Linked DNA regions of Homo sapiens. The protein of the gene in region 3 interacts with the protein of the main gene of each other region in a pairwise test. Each region holds a gene or a part of one and is shown on either strand. Other genes may lie near its edges. The genes, in order: NKAPL, SLAMF7, CLK3, RNF8, HNRNPR, EIF4ENIF1 and ZNF835.

Region 1 (4,101 bases), on a different chromosome or scaffold from region 3:
TGTGTGTGTGTGTGTGTGTGTGTGTGTGTGTGTGTGTGTGTGTGTGAGACTAGGTCTCGCTGTTATTCAGGCTGCTCTTGAACTCCTAGCCGTAAGCAATTCTCCCACCTCAGTCTCCGAAAGTGCTGGGATTACAGGCAAGCCATCATGCCTGGGCCTTCTTCTTTATACCTTATCATTTTTTCTTTCTCTTGCTAGTCTAGGTGGCCCTAATCTACTCAAGCACTCTGATCTCCATCTTTTATATCTCTTTTTATGAATAAACCCTATATCCTCTTAAATTAGAATCTGACTTCTAATAGTCGAAGCCAAGTTTTTCTTCAAGAAAATGTTCACTTTTAGCACATGTACTTTCATTATACGTTTTTTAAAAAAGCATTCGAAACTGTAGTACGCGTCTATGGTTGTCTATCCCCCTTGCCCAAAATTACCCTGATTTTCATTCAAGAATCCATTCCTCTATAACTGGTCTATGACTCCACAGATAAGCCATTCTATTTCCTAAGCAACAACACTTGTTTTGAGTGGGCATGTGACCCAAGCTTATCCCATTATGGTGAATCTCTGGATTCTTGTTTGGATTAGCAACTAAGAAATGTTCTCTCTTCAGAGATGGACCAGAAAAAAGATAACCAAAATCAGGAGCTTTGGCAGCCTTTTTGTTATATAAGGGAAACCAGCCCAAGGAAAATGACCCTTGGAAAAAAAGTGGAGAAGAAAGCCAATGTCCAATTAAAGCCATGCAGAAAATCCATCCTTCTTCTAGACTTTTCATTTGTAAGAGCCACTAAATCTTTTCTATTTTCTAAGCCAGTCTATTAACTGAAAGTAGAAGTATACACTTGATTGAATCCTTTGTTCTTTCTGGGCTTCTTTTGGTCCCCCCGGGGCAAATGAATGGCAAAAGAGTAACGAGCGAAAAAAAACTTTAATAGCTTTTAATCTTTATGCTGCAACATATACTCTTGTATATGCACAGAATGTATATTCTGTATATAAGACACCAAAATATATATTTTTGGGGGAAAGGTGTCAGGGGCTAAAGTGAAAGATTCACTTTTTACTAACTCTCCTCCTATAATGGTTGAATATTTTTAAAACCATGTGCACATATTACTTTTTAAAGTTAAAATAACAAAAAATAAGCTGCTAAAGATATCTCAAAAGAAGCTTTTTCCTGAGGGACTTACTAATATGGTAAGTACAGTAGCACTGTAAAGCCTTTTAACACTTTTGGTCACATAAAATTTTTGTTGTTAAAATTCCTGCTGTGCAACAAGTAAGTCCTTACTTGTCATCTTTCTCTTTTGTCTTTTTGTGCACCATCTCTCGGAAACTGGCTAAAATCTTACTTTCTCTCTTTCGTCTCTCTTCTTGGTTAAAGGATGCAAGAGCTCTCTTCTCATCAGCACTGTAGATCTGGTTCTCCTTACGCAGTCGTACAGCCTCCATTCTGCGATGCCTGCTACCACTCATGACATAACCTGAGCATTCAAAAGAACCGATCTCTTCACTTGTCAACCCAATTTCACCTCTTCGTGGGATTCGCTTTCCAGCTTTTACATACTCAGCCATAGCTGCACCTTCACCGGGAAGCAAAGCATGGCCATACTTCAAAGGTTTTTCATCTTGAGAGGTATGTATTATAGGTGCTTCTGGCCCTATTAAATCCATAGTATCTGCCACATTTGGCTGCTCCATCCAGGTAGCTTCTGACAAGTCCTCTTCTGAGTCTTTACAGCTTGAGTCACTGGATTCTTTTTTGGTTTTCTTATTCTTCTTTTTCTTTGTTTTGTGTTTCTTTTTCTTCTTTTTCTTCTTGGCTTTAACTCTCTTTTTATCATCATCAGAGTCAGAATTTGTGTCAGACTCTGAGTTACTGTCACTATCAGAATATTTCCTATGCTTTCTTTTAGACGACTTATTCTTTCTTTTTTTCTTGTTTCTTGAACGACTGGTCTTCTTTTTCCTATGTTCTTCCGAGTTGGAATCTGAACTGCTGCTTTTCTGATGCGTTACCTCTTCTTCATCCTCAACTGGGGTATGTTCGTCAGAATCTAGCTGAGGGAACTTTGGAGACGGCCCCCACACTTCAGGCGCTCCCAATTCCCCAATCCTCTCTCTCTCCTTCAGCCTCCTCTGCCGATGGCTCTCTTCCTTCTCGTAGTCTTCCGCTGACTGCCGTTCTTCTGCATAGCAGTGACGATGGTAGCGATATCCACTATACGAGGTCGACCAGGAGGACGCGAAGGCGTAGTTGCGGAATCTTGGGAGCCGCCCTCGCGACCCAGAGCGACTAAAGGGGTAAAGAGCGCCCACGTCCAACTCACTCCAAGGAGGCCTGAGGCCCTCACGGCCGCGGGAGTGAGAGCGGGAACAGCCATCCCAAGAGGAACATCTGCTCTGCGGGGATGGTGGGCTCCCCGAGGAGCTGCGTCGCCTTCTCCGAGAGCCCACGATGTCCTCGGAATAGCTGGACCGGGATACTGGGGGCATGAGCCGCGCCTCAACGCTGGGCGGTTGCTACAGACCCAGAGGCTGGCTGGTGATTCGCGGCCACGCAGGCGCACTAGAATCGGCCTCCCACGCACGGCTTCCGCTTCCTGTCAGTTACCAAACGGAAAACGAATCCGCGCGTGTGCTATGTGGGGCGGGCCTTGGCTGCGTGAAGGCTTCTTGTGGGAAGTAGGTAGGATTAGGGTGCGCCTGTTTTTAGGACTTATATTCCCCAACTTGAGCCGTGTGGGAACATAAAAGGACGAATTTGCGTCAATGATCCCCTCTACTGTTGGAACACCCACTTCTCTTTTTCGATTTCGCTTTTACCATTTTGCTTCTCACCCTTTGTTCTTCCCTTTCATTTCCACCTCCTTAACTTTACCCCTCTGTGGAAGATCCCTACTACCAACGCTCCTCCTTTTTTCCTTCCTAAAAAAGGAACTTGTCCACCCTCTTCGTGGAGGAAATATGTTTAATTAATCACTTCCCAACCCCCCTTGTTACCACTGGAAGCAAGAACCAAAACTTCTTTTGGAATCAGTTTGAGCTCACCCTCTAAGCTAGGTGAAGGCCAAAGTCGTACTTTTTTTTTTTTTTTTTGGAGACAGGATCTCACTCTGTCGCCCAGGTTGGGGTGCAGTGGCACGATCATGGCTCAGGGCCGACTTGACTTCCTAGGTTCAAGAGATCCTCCCGAGGAGCTGGGACTGCAGGTGCCCACCACCACGCCAGGTTGATTTTTTTAATAATTATTTGTAGAGACCGTTGTCACTTTGTTTCTGAGTCTGGTCTCAAACTCCTGGGTTCAAGCGATCCTCCCACCTCAGCCTTACAAAGTGCTGGAATTACAGGTGTGAGCCACCATGCCCGGCCCAGAGTCATGATTTTAATTATTAAATTCACAGACTTTTCCACCCTAGAAACACACAGAAGCATCCCACTCGATCTTGTAGACAGATGTCTTTCTATCTAGGGAGACTTCTTCAGAAACTTTGTAGTTTGGAAACCACTTTCTCGATACACATTAGATCTCACTCTCAGAAATGATAAACGTTTTATGCAAGATCATTTATCTCTCATCTTAAAATGTAAATAGGCATTAACATCATCTTGGTTCTCTCTAATTAAGTTGATCTGCTCAGTTGTTTGACAGCCAGGTCAAAACTTAAGAATGATGCCTTCCTGATGCTAGAACTCTAAACAACAAAATGGGGGAAATTAAATTGAATAAGACCAAATCATATCATTTGCTCTAAGTAGAATTTTAGTACTTTGATTGAAGGGGATAAGAATTGGTTCCATACATAAATTATATGAATTTAGGAACTGGTAAACAGCAGGGAGTATTATATGTGAATGGTCACATGTATAGTGAAAATATCATATGGATAGGGTGAGTACTATAGAGTTTGTGTAAGTAAAGAAAATTTTCTTTTGGAGTTATAAACTACTTGATAGGCCAATGAAATGGATATGTCTTACTTGGATAATTGTAAATTTAAGCCATTTAGTATCTGATGTAGACTTGAATTACAAAGCTGGTTGATGAAATACTTCTTTCAGGTAGCGACACAGGAAAATGAAATTTAGAATATATTTTTG
Region 2 (4,252 bases), on a different chromosome or scaffold from region 3:
TGCTAGCTTTGTGCCCTTGGATAAGTTACTTAGCTGTTGTTATTTGTTGTTGTCGTTGTTTGAATCTCAATTTTCTCATGAAGTCAGGAGTTAGCAAATTTTTTCTGAAAAGGGCCAGAGAATAAATATTTTAGGCTTTACAGACAATAAATCATGGTCACAATTATTTAACTCAGCCTTTGTAGTGAAAAAGGATCCATAGACAATATGTAAATGAAAGAGCCTGGCTGTGTTCCAGTACAATTGTATTTACAAAAACAGGCAGTGGACCAGATTTAGCCTATGGGTTATAGGTTGCTGATCCTTGTGTAAAAGGGTCAAAATGCCTAATTTGCAGGATTGCTTTGAGTGTTAGGCATACTCTTTACAATAAACGTTTGGTGCAGAATAAACATTTAATACATGACAACTCTTATAATTTGGAAACCCTTGCCAAGATATTTGATTTTAACAGGGACCAAAGAAATAAATCTCTAATGAAGCAATTTTTGATATCTGGATATGTCTGTATAGGAATTTGTCCTTTTACTAGAAAAGGCATGAGTTACATCAGTACTGGAGTAGAAGAAAAGATTGTGTCTAAGAGAGCAGGCTGTGAAATGAAACAGAGCCTGGATGCTTGGTCAGTCTCACAGGGCCAATTACACACAGGAGACACTGTACATAAGGCCCACGATAGTTTTAATTTTAATTTCTTTTAAAATCAGAAGAGAAATGAATATAGCAATAACAATAACAATGAATATATAATGAATCCAGCCCGGATCACATTCATTTTATACCAACACAGTCATGAAATATGATTTTTAATATTTCTTATGGAAGAAGGACCAACAAGGTCAAAAGTACACAGGAACCACAAAAGTCACCATGTAGCCTTGCAGTAGCATCATTAGAACTGTCAGGATCCTATAGCTTGGCTGTTTTGTTGGCTTTGCTTCTTTCATTTGTGCTTTTCATGACTGAATTAATAAAAATTCCATTTAAAAATTTCACCCTGACACTTTATGTTAAGAGGCAGAAGGGGAAATAACTTTGGGTTTTGTACTTTTAAGGAGAACACCTTTGTTGACAGCTGATGTGAGACCTCAGTTCTTGTCTACTTAGTTTAAAAGAATTTATATGAGAGATACACAGCAAAGGAAATACAGCATAGGGTAATTGATTGCAAAAGAATAAGAATATTTTGACAGTTAAGTGCAGAAAAGACAGTACATTCTGAGAGAAGGAAAATTCAGGGTGGGCTGCCCATAAGGATGAGACAGCAAAGACTGGCACTGGGGAGACCCCCTTTATGGGAGTCTTACATGATTATTCATAAGAGGGTGGGAAGAGGTGTTACTAGTAACCATGTTCTTGGTGGTCCTCTGGGTGGACGTGCACAGTAGCTATACATGCTTCTTCATAAATCTCGTGTCTCATTAGCATCTTAAATCTCCACCCATGGGTGTGTTTTTTACTATTATAATGAGCAAAGGGTCAGTTTGAGAACAAGTAAAATCAAAATCCGCATGCTCTCTACAGCGGAAAGTCCTCACTGAAGATAGCTTTGCTTAAATGAGCTCAATTACAATGTGAATGCTGAGGCTTATTGTATTGACTGTAGGGTCACCAGAGTTACTGCCTCCTGAGAACACTGTTACTTCCTTGACTACCTAACCTGCCTCACCTTTAAGGATTTAGTCTTAGTTTTTGTATTTCTATCAGCCTTGAATAAGTTCTTATCATTTCTACTATTTAGTTTTCTCATCTATAAAATATGCCCTTCAAGGTCTCGACCCTGTGGGTTTTGGTGTGTACTCTGCCTCTTACTAGGTGGCTTGAGTAAGTCATTTACCCCCACTGTGCCTCACATTCCTGATCCGTAAGATAGGGATATAAAGAATGTTTCTTCAAAAAGTTGTTTTAAGAGTTAAACAAGGCTGGGTGTGGTGGCTCATGCCTGCAATCCAGCACTTTGGGAGGCAGAGGCGGGCAGATCACTTGAGGTCAGGAGTTCAAGATCAGCCTGGCCAACATGGTGAAAACCCCACCTCTACTAAAAACACAAAAATTAGCTAGGTAAGATGGCACACACCTGGACTCCCAGCTACTCAGGAGGCTGAAGAAAGACAATCACTCTGAGGCAAGACAATCACTTGAACCCAGGACGTGGAGGTTGTAGTGAGCTGAGATCGTGCCACTGCAATCCCGCCTGGGCAACAGAGTGAGACTCTGTCTCAAAAACAAAAGTGTTAATCAAGATTATAATTTATGCTTTTAAACTGCTAGTCCCAAACTAAATTCTCTCACTGCTCTGTGTTATTCCCAGAGTCTGTCTCTCAAGTTTAATAGGTAAGAATAAGATGACTTACTCCCCACATCTGTTTACTGGTAATGCTCAGCTGGCCACTTCTGGAAGTTTCTTCAGCAGACATTCTTAACTGTTTTTCACCTACAACCACATAATCAGTGATGATTTTTTATAAGTCATACTCTCTGGGAGTGAACTAAGATTGTTGTGATACATAAATTTCTAATATAATGCTTCCATGTGAGCACTTACATAATAGGGTAACATGTGAGGGACCTCTATATGAGGTTCCAAAGGCTTTTCCAGGAGGTTGTTGTGTTGGACTGAGTGGGTTTCTCAGATCTCTCCAGGACCCAAAGGGGGTGAGTAATTGGTGACAAGGACAGGGAATCAGGCTTATTTTATGGTTCTCTGTGTTTATAGGGTCAGCAGCCTCTGGACCCGTGAAAGAGCTGGTCGGTTCCGTTGGTGGGGCCGTGACTTTCCCCCTGAAGTCCAAAGTAAAGCAAGTTGACTCTATTGTCTGGACCTTCAACACAACCCCTCTTGTCACCATACAGCCAGAAGGGGGCACTATCATAGTGACCCAAAATCGTAATAGGGAGAGAGTAGACTTCCCAGATGGAGGCTACTCCCTGAAGCTCAGCAAACTGAAGAAGAATGACTCAGGGATCTACTATGTGGGGATATACAGCTCATCACTCCAGCAGCCCTCCACCCAGGAGTACGTGCTGCATGTCTACGGTGAGCAAAATCAGTTCCAATGGTGGATGGCTGCCTTGGTGAGGTGGTGAGCTCCTTGACATGAGAGATGTTTAAGCAGAGGCTGAATAAACACTTGGCAAGAATGTGGGAGAGGGGACTTCTGCATGAATGAAATAGATGTAGCTGACCCCTGAGGTCCCTGCCTACTCAGAGATGTTGTAAGAAGCAGCGTGGTGCAGTGGATGGCTGATATGTGCAGTGGCCATCGCATAGATCAAGGTCAAATGCTGGCTTCTTTATTTAGTCACATGACCTTAGCCGAGTTATTTAATTTCTTCAAGTCTTAGTTTCCATATCTGTAGTGGGGAGGAAAGAAATGCCTACCTTAGGAAGATTTTTGGGCAAAATATCGATCACATCTCTTTCTCTACAGATTACAACCAATTGATAAATAGATGCAAGAAGGAGGGGATTAAAATATCAGCATATTTCTGGTAAATCTAGACAGGAGAAATGCTTCCTTTCAATTCTAGACCTTGGCACTCATCCAGGGAAGTTAAAATTATGAAACAATGACTCAAACTTCTTCAAGAAGAATAGCTGCTTCACTCACTGAGCCACAGTATCAGGAACCTTAGGGGATGGGCCTCCAGACTTGCTTGTAGGAGGTAGGCACTGCACCTGATCCAGGTGTGTCTTCCATATAGACATGGTTGAAGGGAACAGAAGATATGTATTCTGCAGGCTAACTAGTCAGGGGAGGAAGAAAAAGGGCAAAACACATTTTAACTGCAACCTTTAACGTCTCAAACCCATGAGTAGAGAAAGGTAAATGATGAATGTCAGACTCTTACCATCTCACCAATGAACCAACTACTCATTCTCTGAGGCAGGGGAGTGAGCACAGAGTAGAGAAGGGGGCCAGAAGGGCTACTCCAACACAATTTTCTCCTAGAGAGTAAAGTGAACTCTCATAGAGAGTAAAGGGAAGCCTGAGGACAGAGACTAGGGAACCTCTAGAACAGATAATATTAGCGGACATCTAACATGCGTTATCACAGTGCTTGCCATGTGGCTATGCTTAGTAAATGACAGTTATATTCTTATTGCATTATTATTTCTATTATTTCTATTGTTGTTATTGTTATTATTATTATATAGCTATGGTAAAGCAGACCTAGGTAGTTCTCTTTTCCAGATACGAATGAGGATTCTGCTCTGAATTACTGCTTTCTCTCCAGTCTGGAGCTCCCA
Region 3 (4,252 bases):
GCTGGGTCCACGTCCCCTTGGGTTGACCCTCAGGAGGGCTATGGAATGTTTGTGAGGCCTGTGTGCCTCTTTCTCCAAGGGCTGCTCTTCTAGTCTCTTGTGGCTCCTCATGCTCACTTGTGGTCCTTACTCCCTTGAGTGGGGTCCAGTTCAGGGCCCTAGCCAGACAGCGTTCAGCTTCTCAAACTTGAGGGCTTTGAGCCCTCGCCTCCTGTGTACAGCCCTTTGCCTGGCCTTTGGCTTTACAGAGCATTCACTTCACGGGACCGCCCCCCCGGGCGGGAGGGAATAGAGTGCAGGAGGCTCCCCTTTCTCCTGCCTTTGATCTCCCTGTGGTAGTGTTCACCGTCCCCACCCAGGGTTACTGCCTCAGCCCCTGGCCCTGGCTCACCCAGTTCCCTGAGCACCCAGGCCACCAGGCTAGTGATGCTCTGCTGGGAGCTGTTTGTTTGTTCACTGGCAGAGAAAGTTGTTTCCTATTGTCTGCTGTTTGACCAGTGTGACCTCAGAGTTCTTCTTCACTTCATAAACCTCTGGGAGGGGCCGCCTTCAAACAGAACAATGGGCCTCTTCAGGAGCAACCGGGAAGCCCCAGCAGCCCCATGGCTGGAGGTGGCTGGCTGTGTGTTTAGCAGGGCTCTCTGTTCCTCGTGGCCTAGATGCATCACTGTAAGCGATACCGCTCCCCTGAACCAGACCCGTACCTGAGCTACCGATGGAAGAGGAGGAGGTCCTACAGTCGGGAACATGAAGGGAGACTGCGATACCCGTCCCGAAGGGAGCCTCCCCCACGAAGATCTCGGTCCAGAAGGTGAGAGGGAACTAGATAGGAGGGAAAGACTCCTTCTGTCAGCTGGGCTCAGCTGTGGCAGCTCCAGACTCCTTGAGATGACTCCATCCCTGCCCAGCTGTCCCTGGATCCCTGCCCTGTCCTCTTTGGGCTCCTCCACTAACCTCACCTGCATGCCTTGGCCTCAGCAGTAGCTACCATCCTTGCCGCCCACTCTTTCTCTGTCTTGGAGTGCCTTTTCTTCTCCCCACACATTCCCCCATTTTCTAGGCCAGCATCTTTCCGCTTAACCTCCTAAGCCTTCCTTGGTGAGGATTAGGAACATAACCTCACCCCTGGAAAGTTTGCTCCCTGGGCCTATCTTAGCTCCCAGGTCAAACTTAGAGTTGCAGCAGGCCACAGGGAACTCTGGAAGGGTATAGAACCCTTGGAGGCACTCTACCATACTCCCCTTCCCCTGTACCCCTCCTCCTACAGCTGGAGGATGCTGTCGTTGGACAGGGCTCTGGAGGGCGGGCTTAGTACCTTTGCACCCTCCCCTCTCTGCCCACTTCCCACCAGTGTGGATGCTTTTAGCACAGGCTGTCCCCCTTTAGCCCTTTACAGTGGCCTTACCACAGGTCTCTTGCTTGCTAACAGCAAGGACCCAGCTGACCAGCGTCCCCATCCCCCTTTTGGCAGCCATGACCGCCTGCCCTACCAGAGGAGGTACCGGGAGCGCCGTGACAGCGATACATACCGGTGTGAAGAGCGGAGCCCATCCTTTGGAGAGGACTACTATGGACCTTCACGTTCTCGTCATCGTCGGCGATCGCGGGAGAGGGGGCCATACCGGACCCGCAAGCATGCCCACCACTGCCACAAACGCCGCACCAGGTCTTGTAGCAGCGCCTCCTCGGTGAGTGGTAGCCAGAGTGTGCTGGCTGGGGCTTAAAGGCCTCATCTCTTCCTAGCCTTCTCTCAGGCTGGCTGGTCCGGGTGAGTACTGCCAGCCCTGTGCACGTGCACTGGTGTGCGTGCATGTGTGTGTGTATGTGTTGTCTGGTCCAGGTGTAGGGCTGATCACAGGGTCCTGGCCTCTGTGTCTTCTGGCTCTTTCCAGTGGCAACTGTAGGAACTCTGGCTCCGATGCTGGCTGGCCCCTGGCCTGTCTATGTCTACACAGTGCTCCAGACAAAGGCCACGTGGTGCAAGTGGCTGGGGACACTTCTTAGGACACTTCTTAGGGATCCTAGTAGAGTGGCTGGTATGGTGGTCTGCAGCTATATGGCCTGGTCCTTCCCACCCAGAGACTGCCTCCTCGTGTAACTGAGTGCTCTGATGTGGACTGCACCCACCTCTGCGTCTCATCTGCACACCCCTTCCCAAAGGCCCCCAGTCTGGAGTGCCTCACAGGACCGGAGGATTTGCCTGTCAGCCAGCTCAGACTGGGAACTTCCCTTCTGATCTCCAGCCAGGCCCTCTCCAGCCGAGCCTCTTTACGAGGGGCAGTCGCGGTGAGGAGGGGCAGGTGCCTGTGTGATGGGGCATGTGAAGAAATGGCAGAAAGGCTGCCGCCCCAGGCCTCGTCCAGTTGCAGGCCACATGCCCAGAGCAGGGCCTGGCCAGTATTCCTAGCATGGAGGGTTGTAAGGTCTCTGGAGCCCACATTGCGCTCAGTCCCCTGGGGAAGCAAAGCCAGTTGTGTATTTCCGAGGTTACGTGCGGTCTTCTCTTCTCCCCCATCCCTCTTCCCTGCCTCCCTCCTGCCGGCCTTGAGGCCCCTGAGGAGCAGTGGAGAGGCCAGGTGTCTTCTCTGCCCAGCGCTTTCTGTGACTTCTTTGAGTGGCTACAGGTTGAGGGTTGACTGTGCGGGCGATTGCAGCGTGGCCCTTTCACCTCTTTGCACACTGCCACATGCTGCCACAGGATGGCAGTGCAGGTCTGGCTCTGTTTCTCTGTTTGGTGCCCTCTATCGATCGTCGTGAGGCTTGGGATGGGCCTAGATTGTGAGCAGCATGGGTGCCAAGGCCAGGGCAGGAGCTGGCATGGGGCCTGTGTGGGCCATTGTGGTAGGAAGCCTGGCAGTCGACTGGCCCAGAGGATCCCAGGCTGCTTTCCTTCTTGAGGCTGGTGGCAGGAGGGCTGCTGACGGAAGGCTGTTTCTGGTAGTGATGGTGAAATCTGGCCAAGGATGCCGTCTGGAGGCAGGTAGCAGCTTGGCTGTGAGTGGCAGCTGTCAGGCATGTGCAAGTCTGCGTGGGCGAACAGAGGCAGGCAAGGACAGGCTGGGCATTCTGCAGCTGAAGCCGGAGCAGCCGCTGACCAGTCTGGATGGTTGGACCCAGGCGGGGCCAGCTGCCTTCTTGCGCCGCCGTTCTCACTGCATCTTCCGCTCTGGCCCAAAGCCACATGGGAGGGTCTGGGAGGGAGAGACTCGGAGGAGGAGGAGGAGGGAGTCGGGGCGATGGCTCTCCTCACAGCGTGGCCCTCAGCAGCAGAGGCAGGTCATCTTCCTGAGCGTTTGTGGCGCTCCTCTTAAAGATAATGTCCGAGTTTTCTTTACATACCTGTAGCTGTTTTTACTTTTCTGTTTTTGAAGTCAGTTTGTGTCTTGACGTGTCCCTTGCAATATCCCTATCGTTATATATGCTGTGTGCCTTATGAAATGCTGGGATCTGGAAAATCCAACCAACCAACCCACCGGCTCCTCACCGTCTCCACCTCTGCCTTTGACTGACACCTCAATCTGTCAATCGGAACCGCCTACCATGCGATTGGTCGGATGGCGTTTCGGGGGGCGGTGCATGCAGAGAAGCCAACAGAGCAGTAAGCGCAGCAGCCGGAGTGTGGAAGATGACAAGGAGGGTCACCTGGTGTGCCGGATCGGCGATTGGCTCCAAGAGCGATGTACAGCCACCTTTCGTAAAACTTTACCTCTCTACTTTCTACCCCCCTTGTTAGACGAGACCTCTCCTGCCTGGAGGGGCCTCTAGTGCGCGTGGTGCCTTAGCGGGGCCACCAGTAATTGCCTGAATGACACAGACACTAGCAACTTCCATTTTTAAGAGTGTAGCAGTGAGAGAGAAACCTTTTTTGTTTTTGAGAATTTGAATGCTGTGAACTTGCAGGAGCTGCCAACCCCCTGCCCTCCAGATTCTCATGCCCAATTTCTTTTCTCTCCTAGATGAGATTGTGGGGAACCTGGGTGAAGGCACCTTTGGCAAGGTGGTGGAGTGCTTGGACCATGCCAGGTGAGCGAGCTGCGGCAGTACAGCTGGCTCCGGATGTGATCTTCCTGGGAAGAGCTGGCCTGAGGTTCTTGAGGGTGGCAGCTATCAGAGCTTAACTTTTTTCTTTTTGAAGGGTGGCATCAAAGTAGGGTTCCGACCTGTCCATGTTGGGGTTTTGCTGACCCCCTGTAATAAGGGAGAAATTCTTGGGTCCTGCAGTTATGTGGCATCCCTACCCAAGAATTGTTGG
Region 4 (4,252 bases), on a different chromosome or scaffold from region 3:
GTGTAGGAGAAGCCTGCCAGGCTTGGCTGCCTGCAAGGTCAGGTCGTAGCATAGCCTGAAAAGAAGTCTGAATCAAAGGCAAGAGAAGAAGTTGTACTTATTGTTATGGTCCCCAAATCATAGCACAAGCTGTTTTGCACAAGATTTTAAAAGATACGCTAATAACATAACAGCAAAGGTAGGTCAGTTCCCTGCCTTTCCAGTTCTTAGTCTCAGATGTTGTGGATAAAATAATAAAACAGGGTTCCTTTCATTTCATTGATGGGAACACTGTAGTAAATTGTCTAATTAAGTGGCTTTAAGCTTGTTAAAGCAATGCATAGAGTTTGGTGGAAAAACAAGTAGAGATTTATTGCAAATTAGCTAGTTCTCAGGTACTATAAAGTATCTAGGCCTTTGGGGAAAACAACAGAACCTTCTCTCCCCTTTTCTTCTCTTGTATTTAGTTTTCATTAAGTTTTCTGCCCCAAGGGAAAAAAGGGAAAGGATGGTTATATTTACTGGTTTGGGGGCTTTTTTGTGGGGTGTTTTGTTTTGAGACAGAGTACTCCTTCTGTCACCCAGGCTGGAGTGCAGTGGTGTGATCACACCTTCACCTCCCTGGTTCAAGTGGTTCTTCTGTCTCAGCCTCCGAAGTAGCTGGGATTACAGATATGCACCACTATGCCCAGTTACTTTTTGTGTTTTCAATAGAGGTGGGGTTTCGCCATGTTGGCCAGGCTGGTCTCGAACTCCTGGCCTCATGTGATCCGCCCGCCTGGGCTTCCCAAAGTGCTGGAATTACAGGTGTGAGCCACCACACCTGGCCAGATTTACTTGTTATTTGAGAAACAGTAGGAATTGTGCCCAGGAGGAAAGAGATAGTCTTAGTGAAGGTGGGCAAAGACAGGATGATCTTTTAGATCAATAATGTGTGTAAGCTCAAAGGCTTGCAAAACTATTGTAAATGAAAACAACCCCTCACATATGGGTCGTCAGTCAGTTCCCACGGGAAATTCAGTGTTATGTTGAGTGGTCCTGAGATTTCCAGGTAACCTCACTGCACTCTTTAACTACAGTATAGGTGAAATATCAGTAGTACCAAGGTAAATTCTAAGACCAGGCAGTGCAGGGAAGGATGTAAAAGAATGATTCCTTTTTCTGGGTTCAGAGTCTGTTGGAGGCAATGTCAGGAAAAGGCACTCTTCTACTGTTTTGGTACTGTTTTCCCCTGGCTACTCACAATGGCAGTCTGGCTGTCTCCCCTCAAGTATTAGCATGTAATATGAGATGCTTCCTCTCTTAGAGATAAAGCTACCTAAATAGAAATTTTACTGAATATGGACGACAGATAAATCCCTAGCCATTCCATTTTTAACAGATATGTGTATTCAGAGGAACTTCTATAATTAATATAATTCTGGCAGAGTGTGAAAGAACTGAAAAACTTTGTGCTCAGTGTTGGTGGAGTGATCACCACAACATTTTAAAGAGAAACAAGTGAGACTGTATGAGTTCCAACTGCTGCTCCATATTTTCCAATGGTAATACAGTCTCTAACTTCTGACCTAAAAACACCCACCCTAAAATCTTGAGGACTCATATGCAAGACCTCTTTATTCTTTCATTCATTCTCAAATACTTAACTGAACACTATGCCAGGTATAGAAACACAGTGGTAAACAAGACAGATAAAGTCCCTGCTTATCTAATTTATATTCTATTACGGGGACAGAGGGGAAAAGTAAAATAAACAAGATAATTTTGGTCTGTGATAAGTACTTCCTAATAACTGAAGAAATATGATGGGAAGCAGACAACCAACTTTAGACAGAGGTAATCAGAGTAGGCTTATGAGTAGCTGGAACATGAAAGATAAGGAGCCTGTGCAAGATCTGAGAGAAGAGTGTTCTTAGCAGAGGGGCTAAGTGAAAAGACCCTCAGGTAGGCTGGCACTTCGGGGAGATGGGCTTAAGGAACAACAACAACAAAAAAGTTTGAGGGGCTGGAGCAGCTAGTGTTGGCACTATGGTATGAGTTAAGACTAAAGAGTAGAAGGGCTCAGGACATTCAGGGTCTTATAGGCCATGGAAGGAAGTTTGAATGATTGGACAGTTTTAAGGAAAGAAGGAAAATGACCTGATTTAAAATTTTTACATTTCTATTCCAGTTACTATTATAAAGCTTATGGGGGCTAGAGTGAGAACAGAAACAGTAGGAGGCCAGGTGGTTTGGACTAAGGCTGTGGCTGCAGAGATAGGAATGAACAGACTTAGGACATATTTGAATTATAGCCCATATAATTTACCAGTGATTTCAATGTGGGGATGAGGGACAGAGATGAATCAAAGATGGCTTCTGGGTTATGGGTTGAGTAGTTGGTTGGATAGTATTGTGAATACTGAGATAAGAGTTTGTGGGGAGGAATAGATTAGGTCAGTGAGTCGTGGTGGTCTTTGAGGGACTGAGGAGGACAGGCATTCTGAAAGATTTTAAAGAGAAGAGAAGAGGGCAGTTTTAGCTAACTTTGGTTTAAAGTTCCCAGTTAAGGTTGTGATATGGGACATTAAAGAGGTCGTTTGTGCACTAAGAAGAATATGCAGGGAGCCGGGCGCGGTGGCTCACACCTGTAATCCCAGCACTGTGGGAGGCTGAGGCAGGCAGATCACTTGAGATCAGGAGTTCGAGACCAGCCTGACCAACATGGTGAAACCCCGTCTCTACTAAAAATACAAAAATTAGTTGGGTGTGGTGGTGCGTGCCTGTAATCCCAGCTACGTGGAAGCTGAGGCAGGAGAATTGCTTGAACCCGGGAGGCAGAGGTTGCAGTGAGCTAAGATCGTGCCACTGCACTCCAGCCTGGGTGATAAAGCAAGACTCTCTCAAAAAAACAAAAAAAAATTAACAAACAAAAAAGAATAAGGGAATTCTGTGATCTGGAACTCAGAAGAATTTCATTTCCTTCCTTCACAGGGTTGTTATGAACTAGACTGGTCCAACAGGAAAGTATGATAGATGTGAACTGGGGCTTCTTTTCAACCTTTTCCGGAAGCTCTCAAGCTGTTCTTGTGGATAAGACAGAGAATATGTACTCCAATGCAAAGACTTTTGGTTGAATTATAACTGGCTGAAGGTATATCCAGATGGTGTGGGTTAATGTTTACTAGGTTTTCCTGAAAACTTTGCCTTTGGCTGCATCCCATTCTGTGTCTTGAACGAAGGTATAGAAGGCATCATCTCATAAATTTGGTGGAAGAGATATTAAGTATGTCTGATCTGATGGCAGATTAAAAATTCAGAAAGGTCTTGACAAATTGGTTTGATAGGCTGAACTAGCAAGATGAAATTTAATAGGAATCAATCTAAGGTCCTGCGCTTGAATCCAAGGTTTTCCATCCAGTCAAGTATAGAGCAGAAGAGACAGGACTTAGGATAGCATTTCTTGGAGGAGGGGGAGACCAAGAAATTTAATCATTCCTAAGTTCGAGGATACACTGGCAGTGTACTAGATCTGCTATGAAAGCTAATGCAATTTATATGCTCCAGTGATAATATCTAGAACTGGGAAAGTAACACTTGCGTTTGACTGTGTAATAGAAATTAAGTTTATTTTTCTTAATATGCCATCCAGGAATAAAGATAAACCAGCAGTCCCTTCACAGACTCATTAGAATGGCAAAGGCTCAAGCCCATCCCCTGGGAGTTAAGTTGAAGTAACTGGGAATACAGAACCAGGAAAAGAGAAAACTCAGTGTTCACTTTATATCTGTGCCATTGAAAGGGGATTGGAGATTTCCCGATGGTGCCCAGGGCAAAGCCAGGGCCAATGGATGGAATTTACAAGGAGAAAAATGCCAAGTCAGAGACATTTTAAAAATTGGAGGGCCTGCCTTATGTAAAGTTACTGACAGTATTTATGCGTTGATGGGATGTGTAGAAAGAATTCCTCTATCTCATAGTCATTGAACCAGATGACCTTTCAAGATCTTGGCAACCCTGAGATACATGGATAACTCTTTTTCAGCTTTCTCTTGTTGTCACAACCGTTTGCCTTTTTCTACTTGGTGGTTCTCAAGACAGCTGAAGAGGAGATAGCTGATGCACTGTTTTGGTTCCACAGGTGTCTGGTTTCTTAAGTCAGGACCTGCATATGCTGCTGGTTGATGAGATTTGTAAAGGACCTCCCTTTTCAGCACAATGACTGATGGTATTTCTTGCATTGTTGTTGTCTCCCAGGTGACTGTAGGACGAGGATTTGGTGTCACATACCAAC
Region 5 (4,252 bases), on a different chromosome or scaffold from region 3:
TATATACAATAAAAACCCAACTCCTTACATGGCCTACAGAAGCCCTGCCTACTTCATTTCATACAACTCTACTCCTAATTCTACCTTTTAATAATACTGGCCTCCTCAGTTACTGTAATATACTGACTTCTTTCTTGCCTTGGAACCTTGGCACGTGTTGCTGTCTTGGAATGCACTTCCTTTTGCTCTTTGTATGCTACAACCTCTTCATCCTTCAGGTGCTGGTTGACATGTCATCTTATCAGAAAAGTCTTCCAAAACCATGGAAACAGGGATAGTAGCTATTCTCTAGCTAAATATCCTGTATTTCCTGCTTCAGTGTCTTATCACAATGTCTAAATATTCCTTTAATTTTTATTTTTTATATTCTTGGTCTTATCTCCTTTCTCAGGATATAGGATCTATGAAAGCAGAGAATATGTCTCTTAGCCATCAGTGTATCCCAGGCACATAGCACAATGCCAGCACTTAACAGGAACTTTAATAAACACCTGCTGAAAGAATGAATAAATGATCATGAAGCCAGAAGGAGCTATAGATAATAAAGTGATGAGGTCAAAGAACTGTGCCAGCAGTTGACAACACAATACTTGACAACACAATATAGCGGGTGGTAGCAGTGGTTACAAAGTGGGACGCTAGAAATCAAGAGTTCAGAGTGCATAGAATTTCTGGTGACTAGATCCAGAATGTAATCTGGATATGGTGGAGCTGAAGTAAAGGACTAAAGATGAGGTAGACATAGAAGTAGGTAGGAGTCTAAAGCCCTGGATGGTTCACCAATGTAGATGTTAAAGGTATTAGAAAGAAGCCAATTTAGGGCAGAAGAGGAAGACAGTGAGCCAGAAGCAATCTTTAGATTAATGAAAGGCTGAAACCACAAGAGCAACGAATGACAGCTTCAACAAAAGGGAAAGGATATGTCTGGATGATAAAAATGTAAAGAAACAGTGGTTTTTACAAGGGGAGGCAGCGGTCTAACGCAGTGTTTTTAAATCATAGGTAGTATTAGATCACAATTGGCATTTTAAAAAATGAAATAGAATAAGAAATATCAAAATAAATCATGTATAATAAATAAAAGTACAGTTTTGTTAAATTGTTTCAGTTATATATAAATGTGTATAGAACTGTGATATAAAATCTACTTCTCAATCAATTCCATGGATTTAGAATTGGATATTTAAAAAAATCTGATCAGCCAGGCACTGTGGCTCACGCCTGTAATCCCAGCACTTTGGGAGGCCGAGGCGGGAGGATCACCAGAGGTCGGGAGTTCTAGACTAGCCTGACCAACATAGAGAAACCCCGTCTCTACTAAAAATACAAAATTAGCCAGGCGTGGTGGCACATGCTAGTCCCAGCTACTCGGGAGGCTGAGGCAGGAGAATTGCTTGAACCAAGGAGGCGGAGGTTGCAGTGAGCCGAGATCGTACCATTGCACTCCAGCCTAGGCAACAAGAGCGAAACTCCGTCTCAAAAAAAAAAAAAATCTGATCTAGACAAGGCAGCAGGGAGAGAGTAAAAACTTTCATCCTCTTGGTCCTAAAATACACTAATTGTCAAGGGGAAAAAAAGCATTCACTTGAGGGCTATAGAGCAAAAGCTCCAGCAAAAGCCAAGGTTCAATTAAGACAAAGAAGTGAAGGGGACATTCCAAGAAATGAAGGATATAAGGGAACTTGCTTAAACCCAAACCACTATAAAGCAGAAAGGAAGCAATTTAGATACTTCAGACCTGAATTCTTAATTTAATACATACAACCCCTCAGTTTTTTTGAGCACTTGTAAGTAGTACAACATATTTCGCAAAAGTAATTTCTAAATACATTTTTGTTTTACCTGTGACTTTACTGAATTCTTCCAAAATGTTTTCTTTAGTCTTATTCTTCGGAATGGATCCAACAAAAAGTCTGTTGTTTGCCACAGAAATGCACACTCCAAGGTGTTTACCAGGGCGAATTTCATAGCTGTCACACTGCAATAAGAAAAGAACCAGAGACCCCAAAACCACCCCAAACTCAGGACAATTGATCTTAATCTAAAAAATTCAACAATTTAAGGCCAAACGCTCCCTGCTTCATCAACTCACCAAGTTCCCTCATGCTTTCCATAATATGAATGTATATTTTAAACTTCATTGTTACAGTCTCTTGTTTTAGTTTGGTTTTGTTAACCTTCACTACTCTTCCATATAAAAAGGACTCACTTTATTGTTTAAAATATCTTATTTCATATTTTAATTTTATCTATCTGAAAATGTTTTTCCACAGATTTTTCAGAAAAAAATACCTGAGACTGATCATTCAGGGTCCTTGGAAATGTAATTGCATATAGGTAAGCCATACTCAAAATAACAATATGTAAAGGGTAACAACTATGTTTAATCAATGCAAAGATATTAGAAAAATTTCAAATTCTACAGAAGTCACAGAATTCTAAATATATAGTTTTAAATTGTCTACCAAACACAATACTTTCAAAATTTTATAAAATTTTGAAAAATGTTTTATTTAAATCACTATAGTGGATTTTCTTGATAAATTGTAGCCCTTTTTTTTTTTTCTTAAGATGGAGTCTCGCTCTGTCATCCAAGCTGGAGGGCAGTAGCATGATCTTTGCTCACTGCAACCTCCACCTCCTGGGTTGAAGTGATTCTCCTGCCTCAGCCTCCCAAGTAGCTGGGACTACAGGCGTGCGCCACCACGCCCAGCTAATTTTTGTATTTTTAGTAAAGACAGGGTTTCACCACGTTGGCCAGGCTGATCTTGAACTCCTGACCTCAGGTGATCTGCCTGCCTCAGCCTCCCAAAGTGCTGGGATTACAGGCGTGAGCCACCACACCTGGCCAATTTTAGCTTCTTATACTTTAATATTATTTAACCATTAGTTTACTAAGAGATATGATTATTAAAAATAAAATCATCCATATGCTGCCAAAAATGAAAACTTAATATTAAATAAACAAGTTTGAAGAAAAAATCCATAATAAAAACTAAAATCTGGGTCAAGCTAGGAGTGGAACTAATTCAGACACCAGTAATGAAACCAAAGCCTTGATGAAAGAAGTTGACCATTCTACAAAGGCTAGAACTAGACTTAGTGAGGTCCTCAGAAGTCAGGCAAGGGTATGCCAAAAAATAATTACATTGTTATTTTAAGATACTGAGATAGCTGTGTCTTAAATACAGCAGGAGTGAAGATACATTTGATTTGCAGAACTTTGTTGCTACTACTACTGGTCTGAAATGAGCACCAAGTGGTTAAAGGCCCTAGAGAAAGGAAATTAATATGAGACTGGCTATAAATAGTAGGAGAGGAGAGAAAGATTAAAGACAGAGAAGACTCAAGGGCCAAGAAACATACAGGAAGAACAAAAATACACTTAGAAAATATGAAATAAATCGTATGAGTAGGCTGTAACCAAAATAAAACAGATTCACAACTATTTTCTGAATTGAATCCTAAGTCACTGTCATCCACTATTATGTTCCCCACAGCCCATTCCAGTCTTCATTATACTTTAAGAATCCTAAAGTTTAACATCAAGAATTGACATCCTTTTGCCTAAAACCAAAAGACAGAAATGCATAAGCCAAATACTCATATGAAACTTCTGATATCAATCTAATAGATAACTTCTTAAATCAATGGGAGACTTTCTATAAAACATTACTTTTTGGGTATTTTCAGTTCTTTTTTACTTTTATAGTCAGAGAAAAATAAACGTCACATACCAACTTGGTCAGTATAAAAACATTCCAAGCAACAACTGAAGAAATCAAAATAATGTTAACTACAAACATTTTTGAATTAAAGTTTATTTCCTCAAATAGTGACTTGCTAAGACAGTGGATAATTATCACATACCAGTTTCACGGCTTCCTGTGCAGCTTCCTTTCCACAGAAGGTGATAAATGCATACCCTCTATTCTGACCGGACAGTGGATCCATCATAAGACGTAGATCCCAAATGGGTCCGGCCTTCTCAAAAAGGGGCACCAACTCATCCTCATATAAATCCCTTGGTATTTTGCCTACAAATACCTGAAATAAAACCCCCTTATTAGAATCCAACATAAGCATTTGATTTTAGAGCCATAAAGCCTACTGCCTTTTTTTTTTAAAGATGGGGGCAGAAGAAGATGGTTAAGAAAGAATGGAAACAATCTGAAACTTACAGTTGACTTGCAGAGCTAATCCTAATTTTTATTATAATGACCTTAGGGTTATCAAAGAACAAGTCTCTTGA
Region 6 (4,252 bases), on a different chromosome or scaffold from region 3:
GGTTTAAGAGTGGTTTAGACAGTGGTTCTCAAAGTGTGCTCCCTGAACTAGCATTAGCATCATCTGGTAACTTGTTAGAAATACAAATCTCAGGCCTCTTCTCAGTGGTATTAAAGGAGAAACTTGGGGAGTAGAGCTTAACCGTCTGCATTTAACAAGCTCTTCAGGGGATTCTGGCTCTGGTTCAAGTTTGAGAACCATTGGCTTAAGAAATGATCACCTGCTCGCTGGGTGTGGTGGCTCACACTTGTAATCCCAGCAGTTAGGGAGACTGAGATGGGAGGATTGCTTGAGCCCAGGAGTTCAAGACCAGCCTGGGCAGGATGACAAGACCCTGTCACTACAAAAAAAATTTAAAAATTAGCTAGGTATGGTGGCGTATTGCCTGTAGTCTCAGCTACACAGGGGACTGAGGTGAGAGAATCGTTTGAGGCTGCAGTGAGCCATCATCGCGCCATTTCACTACAGCCTGTGCAACAAAAAGAGACCCTGTCTCAAAAAAAAAAAAAAAAAAAAAAGATCGTCTCCTGGCAGTGGTGCTCATTCAACTTTTTCTTCACCAGAAGCCCTTGTTCACCAGTTCTGGAATATAGTACCTGCTATTCTGTTAGTGATGCCATCTTCTGCTTGAAATACAAAATAGAAATGTTTTAGGCCATCCCACTATTCAGATCCATGTGGTTTTCTTTTCTGTTTTTTTGTTTTGAGACAGAGTCTCTGTCTGTCGCCAGGCTGGAGTGCAGTGGCCCTATGTCGGCTCACTGCAACCTCTGCCTCCCGGGTTCAAGCAATTTCCCTACCTCAGCCTCTTGAGTAGCTGGGACTACAGGCGCGTGCCTCCATGCCCAGCTAATTTTTTTTACATTTTAGTAGAGATGGGGTTTCACCATGTTGGCCAGGATGGTCTCGATCTCCTGATCTCATGATCCACCCACCTTGGCCTCCTAAAGTGCTCTGATTACAGGCGTGAGCCACCACGCCTGGCCTCACATCCATGTTATTTTCGTCAAGTGAATAGACTAATCTGTTTTTTTTTGTTTGTTTTTGAGACCGCGTCTCACTCTGTCACCCAGGCTGGAGTGCAGTGTTGCAATCTTGGCTCACTGCAACCTCTGCTTCCCAGGTTCAAGCAATTCTCCTGCCTCAGCCTCCTGAGTAGCTGGGATTACAGGCACGTGCCATGATGCCCAGCTAATTTTTGTATTTTTATTAGAAACGGGGTTTCACCATATTGGTAAGGTTGGTCTCAAACTCCTGACCTCAAGTGATCCACCTGCCGTGGCCTGCCAAAGTGCTGGGATTACAGGCGTGAGCTACCGCACCCGGCCAAATAGACTAATCTTATAAAGGATACATACGTTATGCTGTTCTTCCTTTGCTCCTGTGTTTTGCCACTGATTCCTTATTAAATGACTGTCACCTGCCAGTTGGACAGGGAATAAAAGCAGAGACACTCAGAACATTCAGCTTGATACTGACCAGTGTTAAACATGCGTATTAAAGTTAAGTGAATGTTGAATTATCTTAGTTTAACTTCATGTGGAATTTTTTTTTTTTTTTTTGAGACAGGCTCTCACTGTTATCCAGGCTGGAGTGCAGTGGTACAGTTAACTCACTGCAGCCTCGAACTCTGCATTCATGCGATCCTTCCACCTCAGCCTCCTGAGTAGCTAGGACTACAGGTGTGTGTCACCACACATGGCTAATTTTTTCATTTCTTTGTAGAGATAGGATCTCATTATGTTGCCCAGGCTGGTCTCCAACTCCTGACCTCAAGCGATCCTCCTGCCTCAGCCTCCTAAAGTGCTGGAATTCCAGGTGTGAGCCACTGCATCTGGCCCCATGTGGACTCCTCATAACCTTGACTAGTTACAAAGTGGCATTATTGTAGTCATTAGTGTCTCCAGGGATCTTTAAGGGAGGCCATCCTAATTTGTGGCTGGTAGGCCAATTGGTCATAGCAGTCAGTACAGCCATGTTTGTCTTTCCTTTAAAACAATCAGGAAAATGGACAAGCAGTTGAAGTGACTGACTTGAGTCATCCTAGCCTTCTTGGATATAATCAGAAGACTTGAAGCCAATCCCCAGAGAAAAGAGTAACTGATTTAAATCCTAGGTTGAAACAGGAATCAGGTGGTCCCTTTTTCCAGTACAGAAATCTTATTTGATAACTAAATGTATCTTTTATAAACTGAGTAGTAACTCAGGTGGCATTTCTGTGACAAATTTAGGTATAAACTTCTTAAACTAATTTAAGGATACCTATTTATGTTGGAGAAGGTAGAATTATGGTATGAAAAGTCATTGGGAGGACAAGGTGGGAGGATGAATTGAGTCCAGGAGTTCACGACCAGACTGGGCAATATAGTGAGACCCCATCTCGTTAAAAAAAAAAAAAATTGCCAGAGGTGGTGGTGTGCACCTGTGGTCCCAGATACTCAAGAGGCTAACGTGGGAGGATCACTTGAGCTTGGGAAGTTGAGCTTGCAGTGAGCTATGACTGCACCATTGCACTCCAGCATGGGCAACAGAGTGAGACTCTGTCTCAAAGGAAAAAAAAATTATTCAATCTTAATGTGTCAACTGTCCAGAAAACCTATCTTACTGGAAGTTGTTAGAGCAGGCTGGCTGGCAAGACCATAGAGAATAGCTTCTGACTGCTTTTTCCTACCCGTTCCTTTTTTGTTATTGTTGAGACAGAGTCTTGCACGATCTTGGCTCACTGCAACCTCCACCTCCCAGGTTGAAGTGATTCTCCTGCCTCAGCCTCCTGAGTAGTTGGGATTACAGGTGTGTGCCACCATGCCCAGCTGATTTTCTTTTTTTTAGTAGAGACGATTTCGCCATGTTGGCCAGGATGGTCTCAAACTCCTGACCTCAAGTGATCTGCCCACCTTGGTCTCCTAAAGTGCTGGGGTTACAGACGTGAGCCACTGCACCCGGCCCCTGCCTGTTCGGTTTTGTTTTGTTTTCAGAGGGAGTTTTGTTCCTGTTGCCCAGGCTGGAGTGCAATGGCGTGATCTTGGCTCACCACAACCTCTGCCTCCCGGGTTCAAGCGATTCTCCTGCCTTAGCCTCCCGAGTAGCTGGGACTACAGGCGCACGCCACCATGCCCGGCTAATTTTTTGTATTTTTAGTATAGATGGGGTTTCTCCATGTTAGGCTGGTCTCAAACTTCTGACCTCAGGTGATCTGCCCGTCTCACCCTCCCAAAGTGCTGGGATTACAGGCGTGAGCCACCACGCCCGCCCAGGAATATTTCCCTTTTAATCCCCCTTCCATAAATGTGACTTATGTGAAATTCTACATAATGTCAGAAGGTCCATCAGAATGCATAGTTGTTTCTGCATAGGATTTCTGCAGAAAGAAATGGATAAGGATTTTAACCATTGTTCTTTTGGGCTTTTGTTGAGATTCATTTGCTTTCCACTTTAATAGTGATCACCAAAAGTGGGTGTTCATACTAGTAATTCCCCAATAGGTTTTGGGAGCCTTGACACATTTTCTTTAAGGAAGGCTGCTGCAACTAAGAAAATATGTTTATGCTTCCTTGGGTGTGTGGCTCTTGGGCAATTAGCAGCTTGTTCTTGCCTAGTCAGGTTTTAGTAACCTGTGCAAAAAGTGAAGTCTCAGGTATTAACTCTTATATTCGCCATATGGTAATCTTAATGAATTCATTCGTGATCAGTAAGTTCCTATGGGTTAAGACTTTCCAGGCTAGGCACAGTGGCTCACACTTGTAATCCCAGCACTTTAGGAGGCTGAGGCAAGATGATCACTTGAGCCTAAGAGTTCAGACCAGCCTGGGCAACACAGCAAGACCTCATCTCTACAAAAAATTTTTTAAATTAGCTGGATGTGGTGGCATGCACCTGTAGTCTTAGCTGCTTGGGAGGCTGAGGCAAGAAAGATCACTTGAGTCCATGAGTTTTGAGGCTGCAGTGAGCTATGATCATGCCACTGCACTCCAGCCTGAGAGTGAGAACCTGTCTCAAAAAAAAAACTCCAAAAGGATAGATTAAAAAAAAAAAAAAAAAAACACCTTTCCAAAAGGGTAATATCACATCCTTTCTTGAAATACTCATAAGAAGGAAGCACTCCTAGTTAGAGTGGCCACTTCCCAAGTATTCTGTCTTTAGCCATAGTTGAACGTTTTCTTTGAAAATATCCCAAAGGGGTATTTCCACGAATAATGTTAAGGGCTCTTGATGAGATGGCAAGTTTAAGAACTCTTTTCATGCTTGCTTCGGC
Region 7 (4,252 bases), on a different chromosome or scaffold from region 3:
GACAGCTTTCCTGGTTTTCCTGCAGGTCCTCAACCTGGCCCTCGTGTTTCCAGTTTCCTTCCAACTCTGCGCCCTGGAGGGCGACGCTCAAGAGTCCCTCCATCCTCGATCCCTGGGCTGCTGTCTTGATCTCACATCTTTTCTCTGGGTCTGAAAAGAAAAAGATAGAAAAAAAAATTAAATGTTGCCACTTGTCCTGAGCTGGAAAAATGGCTAACAGCTGAACTGGTAAGAACTTAGCATGGGGTCCCTGGACCTCTGTGCCAATGACATTTTGGGTCCAATAATTTGGTGTGGTGGGACCCATCCTGTGTGTTGTGAGATGTTGAGCAGCGTCCCTGGTCTCTCCACACTGGCTGCCAGGGACACTACCCCTCAACCCCTGAGTTGTAACAATGAAAAATGTCTCCAGGCCGGACGTGGTGGCTCATGCCTGCAATCCCAGCACTTTGGGAGGCCAAGGCAGGTGGTTGCTTGAGCCCAGGAGTTTGAGACCAGCAAACTGTCTGCTGCCTGGGCAACACAGCAAGATCTCATTTCTACAAATGAAAAAAAAAATTAGCCAGGCATGATGTTGTGCACCCGTGGTCCCAGCTACTCAGGAGGCTGAGGCAAGAGGATCAGCTGAGCTCAGAAGGTTGAAGCTGCAGTGAGTAGTGATCACACTACTGCACTCTAGCCTGGGTGACAGTGTGAGACCCTGTCTGAATTTTCTTTAAAAAGTCTCCAGACACTGCCAGGTGTCCCCTCCCCTGGGGACAAAATTGCCCCCAGTTGGGAATCACTGACTTAATGGAACTAAAAACAAATTTAAAAGATCCCTGAAAAAGAAAAAAAAAGCATGAATCTGTCAGCTCTTAAAATATGGCCCTGTAATCTGGTGCTGTGAACTGAATTGTGCCCCCTCAAAATTTATACATGGAAGCCCTAACTCCCAAGGTGATGCTTTGTGGAGATGGAGCCTTTGGGAGGTGATTAGCTTTAGAGGGGGTCATGAGGGTGGGGCCCCCACAATGGGACTGTTTTATTTTTTTTTTGACATGGAGTCTTGCTCTGTTGCCCAGGCTGGAGCACAGTCTTGGCTCACTGCAACCTCCGCCTCCCGGGTTCAAGCAATTCTTCTGCCTCAGCCTCCTGAGTAGTTGGGACTACAGGTGCACGCCACCATGCCCGGCTAATTTTTGTATTTTTAGTAGAGAGGGGGTTTCACCATATTGGCCAGGCTGGTCTCAAACTCCTGACCTCAGGTGACCCACCCACCTTGGCCTCCCAAAGTGCTGGGATTACAGGCGTGAGCCACCGCGCTTGGCTGGGACTAATGTTTTGATAAGAAGAGGAAGCGACACCAGAGCTCGCTGTCTGTCAGGTGAACACATGGCAAGAAGGCAGCCGTCTGCAAGCCAGGAAGTGAGTCCTCAGTGTGGTCTGACCATGCTGGCACTCTGATCTCAGACTCCCAGCCTCTAGCACTGTGAAGAAATAAGTGTTTATTGCTTCAGCCACCTAATCTGTGATTTTTTTTGTAAGCTGGAGCTAAGATAACTGGAAAGACAGTTTTCTTTTCTGGGGAAAAATCAGTTGAAACTTTAATTCCCAGTGTGACAGCGTTTGATGTGGGGCCTTTGGAGGATGATTAGGTCATGAGGGCATCCTCCTTAATAGGATTAGCGTCCTTATAAGAGGAGACACCAGGGGGCTCACTTACTCTCTGCTCTCTCTGTCCTCTCTGCGTGTGAGGACACAGGGAGAAGGCGGCCATCTGTAAACCAGGAAGAGAGCCCTCACCAGACAGAATCAGCCAACAGTGATCCCAGATTTCACATTATGGGGACACTATTCAACTCACTATGCTCCCCTTCTACAGGGCTCCATCAGTGAAGGAGCTGCCCAGGGTCTCCCAGGCTCAGAGGTTCATGCTGGCTCGTGGGCCCAGGGTCGTTAGAGATGGTGATCTCAAGCTATTGCAGGTTACCCTGTCTGCTTTGCACATTTTCAGTGGAAAGCAGGGATCTGTTTTTATATGAGCCCAGGAAGTCACTGTTTTTTAGAAAGCCATAACAGAAGCCATACATATAGTTACTTCTAGTGGGGCTGTGATGCTGAAGGATTTATACCAATTGCCTGGTGTACACTGGACCTGCACGCTGGCGAGAAACTCACCACTGACTTCTGATGCTTTAGTTCTAACAGAATGGGAAGACAGATGGACAAATGACCTCCTGGTGCTGAGAGAGGGAAGGAGGCAGCTGCCTGTGGATCCACTGTGCTGGGGCTAGCCCCAGAGGAGGGGGCTCACACTGCTGGGAGGTCCTTTCCAGGCTGTGTGGCTGCAGGTAAGTGGCTACCTGCTCTGAGGCTCTGCCTGGTTTTCTCTCTCTAAACAGGGCTCCAGCCTCCCCTTCTCCCGAGGGACATGGCAGGTCTCTCAGCAAGCTTGGCCTCATGTTATGTGTGGGCTCAGCCCCTCACACACAGGCATTCCCTGAACCAACTAGTAGGCTGTGTGCATACAGCAGAGAGTGCTCGGCCTTTGGCTCCTCCGGGTACACTCCTGCTGCTGCTGGACAGGCTACGTCTGAAGCTTGTCCTCCCCACTTCCTGTGTGAGATCCTAACCCTTTGTGGTGGTGCTAGGAGGTGGGGCCTCTGGGAGGTGATGATGACATGAGGCTGGAGCCCTCAGGCGTTGGATTCCTGCCCTTATAAAAGAGGACCCAGAAGGCTCCCTTGCCCCTTCCTCCAAATGAAGACACAACAAGAGGGCCCGGTCTATGAACTAGGAAGCAGCCCTCACCAGACACCAAACCTGCCGGCACCTTGACCTTGGACTTCCAGCCCCTAGAACTGTGTGGAAATAAATGCTGTTTCTTTCTTTCTTTCTTTTTTTGTTTTTTTGTTTGTTTGTTTTGTTTTGTTTTTGAGATAAGAGTTTCGCTCTTGGTGCCCAGGCTGGAGTGCAGTGGCACAATGTTGGCTCACTGCAACCTTCACCTTCCGGGTTCAAGCGATTCTCCTGCCTCAGCCTCCTGCATAGCTGGGATTACAGGCATGCGCTACCATGTTCAGCTAATTTTTTGTATTTAGTAGAGATGAGGTTTCACCATATTAGTCAGGCTGGTCTCAAACTCCTGTCCTCAGATGATCCACCCACCTTGGCCTCCCAAAGTGCTGGGATTACAGGCATGTGCCACTGTGCCCGGCCAATAAATGCTGTTTCTAAGCCACCAGAGTATGGCATTCCGTCACACCCCAAAGGACCTAAAATAGGGCTTTTTTTTTTTTTTTTTTTGAGACAGGGTCTTGCTCTGTTGCTCAGGCTGGAGTGCAGTGTTGCAATCATAGCTCGCTGCAGCCTGGGAATCCTGGCTCAAGTGATCCTCTCACCTCAGCCTCCCAAAGGGCTTGGATCACAGGCAGGCACCACCAACCACACCTGGTCAAGACAGGGCTTTTGTGTGGGCTATTCTTTCTGCCTGACATGCTCTTCCCGCAGCGTGTGCCTCAGCAAGAGGACAAGAGGAGACCCTGAGGGAGTGATGATGTTTGTGTTCAGGGTGGAGAACACAGCAAGTGCAAAGGTCCCAGGGCAGGATGGTGACAAGGGTGGCAGAGGAAAGGTAAAGGGGGTGGGGCTGGACAGAGCAACTGAGGTGCAAGGCAGGGGAGATGCGGTAGAGTGGGGTGGGGGTCAGCTCACACAGGAAGTCACGTGTGCTGGTAAGAACTTGCTGGTGGGGGCCAGGCTGGGTCGGCTCAGGTGCCACGTCCACCGGCATCCCCGGAGTGTGCAGGGGTACCCACCTCGTGTGTAGGGGGAGGGCAGGTGGGTTCACAGCGGGGTTGGGTAAACCTGGGTGTTGTGCACACACAAAGGAGCCCAAGGGGAGACACAGGCTTGCTTGGGGGCAGTAGAAGAAAGCTGTCTACTCCCAGCACTTCTGACACGTGGGCTTTCTCCACACCAACAACCAAGTCTCCAATCTGCTCTGACTGGGAGGCACAGGCAGCTACCAACCATAAAACTGCCTCAACCCCTCCTTGGGTTTGGTGATTTGCTCACATAGCTCATTGAACTCAGGGACATGCTTTATTTACGGTTACTGGTTTCCAATAAAGGATACAACTCAGGAACAGCCAGATGGAAGACACACAGGGTAAGGTATAAGGAGGAGCTCAGAGCACCATGCCCTCTCTGGGTGCTCGACAGCCCCAGAGCTCGGCAAACCCTAAGTTTAGGGTGGTTATGGGGGTTC

The links.
Region 1: the proteins of CLK3 (region 3) and NKAPL interact in binary tests that used the Homo sapiens proteins (3 or more experiments, as listed by UniProt).
Region 2: the proteins of CLK3 (region 3) and SLAMF7 interact in a two-hybrid assay, tested with the Homo sapiens proteins (one large-scale study listed by BioGRID and IntAct).
Region 4: the proteins of CLK3 (region 3) and RNF8 interact in binary tests that used the Homo sapiens proteins (3 or more experiments, as listed by UniProt).
Region 5: the proteins of CLK3 (region 3) and HNRNPR interact in a two-hybrid assay, tested with the Homo sapiens proteins (one large-scale study listed by BioGRID).
Region 6: the proteins of CLK3 (region 3) and EIF4ENIF1 interact in a two-hybrid assay, tested with the Homo sapiens proteins (one large-scale study listed by BioGRID).
Region 7: the proteins of CLK3 (region 3) and ZNF835 interact in binary tests that used the Homo sapiens proteins (3 or more experiments, as listed by UniProt).

Annotation. Positions count from the first base shown.
Region 1 is NC_000006.12:28,257,767-28,261,867, reverse strand, and holds NKAPL (NKAP-like protein), read right to left. Parts: upstream 2,572-4,101; 5' UTR 2,497-2,571; coding exon 1,288-2,496; 3' UTR 910-1,287; downstream 1-909.
Region 2 is NC_000001.11:160,745,478-160,749,729, forward strand, and holds part of SLAMF7 (SLAM family member 7 isoform a precursor), read left to right. Parts: intron 1-2,716; coding exon 2,717-3,037; intron 3,038-4,252. UniProt on the Homo sapiens protein: Self-ligand receptor of the signaling lymphocytic activation molecule (SLAM) family.
Region 3 is NC_000015.10:74,618,538-74,622,789, forward strand, and holds part of CLK3 (dual specificity protein kinase CLK3), read left to right. Parts: intron 1-659; coding exon 660-811; intron 812-1,471; coding exon 1,472-1,688; intron 1,689-3,582; coding exon 3,583-3,679; intron 3,680-3,956; coding exon 3,957-4,023; intron 4,024-4,252. UniProt on the Homo sapiens protein: Dual specificity kinase acting on both serine/threonine and tyrosine-containing substrates. Phosphorylates serine- and arginine-rich (SR) proteins of the spliceosomal complex.
Region 4 is NC_000006.12:37,356,231-37,360,482, forward strand, and holds part of RNF8 (E3 ubiquitin-protein ligase RNF8), read left to right. Parts: intron 1-4,215; coding exon 4,216-4,252. UniProt on the Homo sapiens protein: E3 ubiquitin-protein ligase that plays a key role in DNA damage signaling via 2 distinct roles: by mediating the 'Lys-63'-linked ubiquitination of histones H2A and H2AX and promoting the recruitment of DNA repair proteins at double-strand breaks (DSBs) sites, and by catalyzing 'Lys-48'-linked ubiquitination to remove target proteins from DNA damage sites.
Region 5 is NC_000001.11:23,319,686-23,323,937, forward strand, and holds part of HNRNPR (heterogeneous nuclear ribonucleoprotein R), read right to left. Parts: intron 4,048-4,252; coding exon 3,871-4,047; intron 1,979-3,870; coding exon 1,843-1,978; intron 1-1,842. UniProt on the Homo sapiens protein: Component of ribonucleosomes, which are complexes of at least 20 other different heterogeneous nuclear ribonucleoproteins (hnRNP). hnRNP play an important role in processing of precursor mRNA in the nucleus.
Region 6 is NC_000022.11:31,479,476-31,483,727, reverse strand, and holds part of EIF4ENIF1 (eukaryotic translation initiation factor 4E transporter), read left to right. Parts: intron 1-4,252. UniProt on the Homo sapiens protein: EIF4E-binding protein that regulates translation and stability of mRNAs in processing bodies (P-bodies). Plays a key role in P-bodies to coordinate the storage of translationally inactive mRNAs in the cytoplasm and prevent their degradation.
Region 7 is NC_000019.10:56,665,096-56,669,347, forward strand, and holds part of ZNF835 (zinc finger protein 835), read right to left. Parts: intron 151-4,252; 5' UTR 104-150; coding exon 1-103. UniProt on the Homo sapiens protein: May be involved in transcriptional regulation.